Linked DNA regions of Homo sapiens. The protein of the gene in region 2 interacts with the protein of the main gene of each other region in a pairwise test. Each region holds a gene or a part of one and is shown on either strand. Other genes may lie near its edges. The genes, in order: GNG2 and ADCY2.

The links.
Region 1: the proteins of ADCY2 (region 2) and GNG2 come close enough for resonance energy transfer, tested with the Homo sapiens proteins (one study listed by BioGRID).

The regions. Positions count from the first base shown.
Region 1 is NC_000014.9:51,863,374-51,867,408, forward strand, and holds part of GNG2 (guanine nucleotide-binding protein G(I)/G(S)/G(O) subunit gamma-2 precursor), read left to right. Parts: intron 1-4,035. UniProt on the Homo sapiens protein: Guanine nucleotide-binding proteins (G proteins) are involved as a modulator or transducer in various transmembrane signaling systems.
Region 2 is NC_000005.10:7,828,360-7,830,581, reverse strand, and holds the end of ADCY2 (adenylate cyclase type 2), read right to left. Parts: 3' UTR 501-2,222; downstream 1-500. UniProt on the Homo sapiens protein: Catalyzes the formation of the signaling molecule cAMP in response to G-protein signaling. Down-stream signaling cascades mediate changes in gene expression patterns and lead to increased IL6 production.

The DNA.
Region 1 (4,035 bases), on a different chromosome or scaffold from region 2:
TTTGCTTTTGTGTGCGGATAAGTGAGTGATTTCTACATAGAAGGTACTGAAATGTTATTTTTTTCTTCCTTGGTGGCATAAGGAAAAGTTAGCATATTCTTGGTCTTTACCACTGCCTCACAGGTTTAGGGAGACTTTTTTTATAGTGATAAAATATACATAACATAACATTTCCCATTTTAACTATTTTTTTAAGTATGCAGTTCTGTGGTAGCGAGTACATTGATGTGCTGTCATCACCACCGTCCATCCATAGAACTGTCTTTATCTTGCAAAACTGAAATTCTATACCCATTAATCAATACCTCCTCTTTCCCTCCTTCTCTCAGCTCCTGGAAACCCCCATTTTACTTCTGTCTCTATGAATGTGACCAAGTATCCCATATATGTGAAGTCATACAATATTTGTCCTTTTGTGACTGGCTTAATACACTTAGCATAATGTCTTTAAGATTCATCAATGTTGTAGCATGTGCTAGAATTTCCTTCCTGTTTAAGCTGAATAATATTCCATTGAATGTATAGACTATACTTTGTTTATTCTCTTTTGATGGACACTCGGGCCATGTTTTGGCTATTGTAAATAATACTGCTATGAACACGGGTGTACAAATATCTGTTAGAGTCCCTGCTTTTACTTCTTTTGGGAACCCAGAAGTGAAAATGATGGAACACAGTAATTATATATTTAATTTTTGAAGAATTGCCATACTGTTTTCCATAGCAGCTGCACTATTTTACATTCCCACCAGCAATGAACAAGGATTCCAACTTCTCCACATTCTCATCAATATTTATTTTGTTTTTTATTTATGTTTTTGATAATAGCCATTTTAAGAGGTATGAAGTGGTATCTCTTTATGGTTTTGATGAGCATTTTCCTAATCACTAGTGATGTTGAGCATCTTTTCTTGTGCTCATTGGCCATTTGTATATCTTCTTAGAAAAATGTCTATTCATATTCCTTGCTGATGTTTTTCCCCAGAAATACTGTGTTGAGAATATTTGCAAATTTTTAATCAAATTTTTGAAGAGACATTTGCAAATGGCAGGATCTTTTAACATAATGTGTCATTAGATAATAATCATAATCTTCGTATTTAACCTCCTTTATACAACAGTATTATCCCTGCGTAAATAAAATACTCCTCTCAAAAGTAACATTTGAAATCAAAAGGACAGAGTAAGAAAATGTGCATAGCTTCTGCTAGTTGGTGATGTCCAGAACCTGATAGTGAAATTCAAACCTTTATTGTAGACAGTCACACCAGTGATTCTGCTGGTCAAATCTCAGACCAGGCTACCACTACGGAGGCACTGGAGAGCTGTTTCTTCAGTGCTTTTCTGGTCCCCTCATTAGAGAAAAATGCTCAGTAGGTATCATGGCCAGAAAGGGAGGGGAGAAACTAAAGTACTAAATTGCTCTGAAATCCTTTATAAGGGGGAGCAGTAACTTGTGGGGAGGGGCTACAGTAGTTAAACAATACAACAAGTTTCTGAGACAACAAGTTTCTACTAATGAAGTGTGATCCTAACCAAAATTTCACTTTTAAAAATAATGAATCCTCTGTTTCCTTTTCCACGACAGATTTTACTCCTAATCCTTAAACTGGTGAGGCAGGGTATGGTGAGGCTGAGGAGAGCTGGGCAGAACAATTAGCAGGGACCCTATTGAATAGCAACAGTATCTGAGCTTTACGATGTGGGGTCAGACGTTGACCTTGAATGGTTTGAAGAGCTCCTGAATAATTAATGTTAACTTTCTGTAATGCACTTTGTCCATGTGCTGGGGGCCAGGGGTGGAGGGAAGTTTGCAAATAATGACCCCTAATTTTATTTAATGTGCACATCTATTCATTCTACAATTACTGGGAGAAGCCAGGTGCCTGTCTTTACTAGATCTGGGTGGGAGAGGAGAGTTGCAGAGCTGTGTCGAGATTTAGTCTCCACCCTCCCACCCTCACCTCCAAGATGATGACTATGTTAATTAGCCTGATTTGATCATCACAATGTATACATGTATCAAAACATCACATTGTACCCCATAAATATACACAATTTTTATTTTTCAATTAAAAATATAATAAAAAATTTATAAAGGACTTAGTCCCTGGCCTAGGACATGCTAGAATGGTAGAGCTAAAAATGATCTGGGGGGTGACCTAGCCTATATTGACCTCTTCATAAGGGATAATAAAATAGGCCTGGAATTTAGAGTTAAACAGTTCATTAATTCCTCACCTCCCAGTTACAACTCCATTTCACTTACCTCATATTAGGGCAAAGTCTTTATATGTTGTCACATTTAAAATTGTTTGTAAGACTAAAATATTTTGTTTAAAAAAAAAGAGTAGACGGTTTACATTTAGTACCCTATGTAAATATGGAGTTTCTGTGTACAAACTTGTTCAGGTGTGAAAGATGCCACTGTGGAATAGAGATTTAAATTTTCAGGTAAGAGTATTAGAGATATCTGTAAATATATGGTTCTTGAAAATTCTTATGTTAAAGACAACAAGTTGTATTTAGTGGGAGTCAGTGTTCAGACAATCTCTAGAGGACTTCATTAAACACTGAAAAAAAAAAAAGGGAGCTCAATTCTCAAACTTTAGTGATAACATGTTTCTTAGAAGTGGTACTACTGTATACAGAGGCTGGAGATAAGACAGGATCAGCCCCTTTATCTCTTGGCAAATATGTGTAAACAGTCAAGCTGTTAATGAAAAAGCTTTGAAAAACCAGTCTCTTGACCACTTCTTCCCTGTTCCCTGGCCTTCCCTTGCTCCCTGGCCAGCCCGGGTGTGGGGTCAGGCATTCCCCTGATCCTCTTCCCAGGAACCCAGCACTCAGAGGTAGAGGAGAGGGGCTGAAAACTGGGCTGACTGGTTCTACTCTAGATTCACTGCATCTCCGCAGGGCCATTGCTGTTCTTTCAAAATTCTTTCCTTCTTCCTTTTTTATTTCACTTTTCACTCTGTCCTGTGCATTTTCAATGGAAACCATTCAACCAAGTCCCTACTGCCTTTGTGCGTTAGAAGTGACCTCACTTTCTGTCTTTCTGAGAAGGCACATATTACAGACTTCCTCAACCTCATTCTTACCACCTTAGAATTTCCCCACGTCTTCCTTTATTTTAGATCATTTGAATTGCTGTCACAAATTACCAAAGATGAGGTAACCCAGAAACAACAGAAATCTTTTTTTTTTTTTACACTTCTATGGGCTGGAAAGTCCAAGATCAAGGTACTGGCAGATTTGATGTCTGGCAAAGGCCGTGGACAGCACTTTCTGTGTGTCCCCACATGACAGAAGGGGCCAGCTGGCTCTCTCCAGTCTCTCTTATAAGGGCACTAATCCCATTCATGGGACTCCATACTCATGACCCAATCACCTCCAAAGGTGGCCTCATGTCCTAATACCATTGCACTGGGGATCAGGTTCCAACATATGGGTATGTAGGGGGACAGAAAGATCTGCGTCATTCACATCATTCATTCTCCTCTTCCTCCTAAGTCAAATTAACATCATCTTTCCTTTAAGCCAAGAATAAACCCTCTACTTGGACTCTCTATCCCATTCCCTTTTACTTTCTAAGGGATTATGTTGTGACAATAATTCTGTCTTTCCTACATATTTAGTTTCTTCTCTTTCTTGGTCCTTTCCTCTTTCCCTGTAAACATGCTTAGTTTTTCCATACGCACACAAAGTAATTAAGAAGTAGATGAAACAAATCTCCTCCTACCTCTCTGCGGGCTCCAACTTCACTAACTTCAGTTCCTGCTCCCCAAATATGAGTGTTCTCAAGATACGAGTCTTTGGCCATTTAATTTCTCCCTCTCCCTAATCAAATTCTGTCCTGTGATTTTAGTCACTGTTGCTGTGTGGGTCAGTCCCAAATCTGATGAAGCATCCTAATCATTCACCTCCTCTCTCAGCTTGTACAGCAAGCTGCCTGCAAATTCACCAGAACATCCAACCCACAGAAAATGAAACTCACATGTCCAAAACTGTGCTCACCATCACCTTTCCCACTCC
Region 2 (2,222 bases):
AGGTGTCTTTTATTTATTTCAAACAAATGGCAGTAGTTTATTTCGAATGCCTTTGGGTGCATTATACCATATTTATAGTAACATAATAGAAAATATATAAAGTTTGGGTTATAGAAATATTTATAAATTATTCATTATTCAGACTTGATTTCAACAAAGACAAGGCATCTGTAAGTGACTGTAATAAATCAAAGTCAAACTAAATTATTTTCATTTACTTTCAGTCAGACCTTACTCCCTTCACCTTCTACTACATACTGACTTTCAAAAGGCAGGGCTGTAATTGGCCAAGATTTCAAAAGATCTCACATTTGTTAGGCCATAAGAGAAAATGAAGTATATTTCTCTCGGTATCCCAATGTTTATCATTTAAAGCCAATGCATGAATGCTTGTTAAAGCCATCACACATCATATCTTCTTATATTAATGGATTGTTTTGGTTTATCAAATTTTCATCACTGGGCAATTATGTTGCTTTTTCTTTTTTTTCTTTTTTTTTCTGAGACAGAGTCTCGCTCTGTCACCCAGGCTGGAGTGCAGTGGTATAATCAAGGCTCACTACGTTCTGGACTTCCTGGGCTCAAGTGATCCTCCCACCTCAGCCTCCCATGTAGCTGGGACTACAGGCACGTGCCACCATGCCAAGCTAATTTTCTTATTTTTTTGCAGAGATGGGGGTCTTGCTATGTTGCCCAGGCTGGTCTCAGACTCCTGGGCTTAAGTGATCCTCTCTCCTCGGCCTCCCAAAATATTGGGATTATAGGAGCCACTGCACCCGGCCTGATGATGTTACCTGGTCATTCGGTGTATCCAGAGCAAAGGAAAGATGAATGGTTGCTGCCTTTAGGAGCACAGTGAGTTGGGAAGGAAGAATAACATCCTGGATTGATGACAAAACTTAGACACTCCTAAACAGATATGTAAAACACTGGGGTTTTTGGGAAACTGGACTGGAGGCAATTTCTATGAGAGGCTTCCTGTAAGACTTAAAGGTTAAGGAGAGCATTGGGGAGAGATTTTTTTTTTTTCTTGAAGCCAATGGCACTGGGACCTGGGCTGATGAGAGGTGCACTGCCAGTTTTCTGCCTGGCATTTTTGCTCACAGGGATGCTTTTAGCTGCCCAGAACTTTAAGGAGCTTTGACCAGGAATAATGCTCTTTCAGATTCAAGGAACAGGCAGTTTTCCATTCTAGCCTGGCCTCAACTGCTAATCAACTGTGGAACTCTGAACACATGTGCCTGAATTACTCTGCCCCTGTTTCCTCACCTGCAAAAACACTGGGGAGGGAGGGAGGTCTGAAGCTTGATCAGGGATCAGAATCACCTGGAGAACCTGTTCACTAAACAGCAGTTGTGCTGGGCCCCAGCCCCGGGGATCTCAAATTCAGGGTCCTCCTTCAGGTTGGGGCCTGAGAATTTGCATTTTTGATAAGTTCACAGGGGATGCTAAGGCTGCTCCTATGGGACCACACCTAGAAGGGACCAGGTACACACAGAGCTTCCCATAGTGGATTCTGACAATGACTCAATGCTTTTAAAAGCCTATTGTTTGGTAAGACTGGTGATATGGCTTTGGGAGAGCACAGTTCTCCTTTTGAGTTCTTTTTAGCGCAAACCCAAGTTCGGTGCACCCCGTGGGGGAATGGGAGGGACTCTGTTTATGAGAACTTGGTGGACCACCCAGCTGGGGGTGTTCACTCAGGGTAGGTGAACTAAGGTGACCTGCGGATGAGTGTAGCAGGATGTAACAGAGGAAGAACCCACGAGGCACGCCTGCTGCTCATCCTTACACATTTTACACCAAGGCCAGTTTGAGCTCACGGAAACGCTACGGCATCCGTGAAGAATGAGTTAGAGGAAAGAGAAAAGCCCTTGTAATAATTCTCTTGCTTTAATCACTGTTTTTGGAGATTTAGGTATATTAAGGCCAATGCTGAGTTGTGATTACAGGATCAAAAAATTCCCCATTGAGGCAGAATACTAAATAAGTCATGCTCTACTCACACTTCGGTGATGAAGGACGGTTATCAGCTTCGATAAGTGCCTTTTACTGGGAATGAGTCACAGTCCTGGCACAGCAGCTGTGCCCGTGCTGTGAATGTACCACGGGGCACCTGCCAGGCTCGCTCACAGTCATTGCCTCGTTTAATCACTAGCGAGTCCATAAGTTGCCAATAAGGAAAGTACTCCTAAGAGGGACTAAGAGATGTGTTCAAAGTC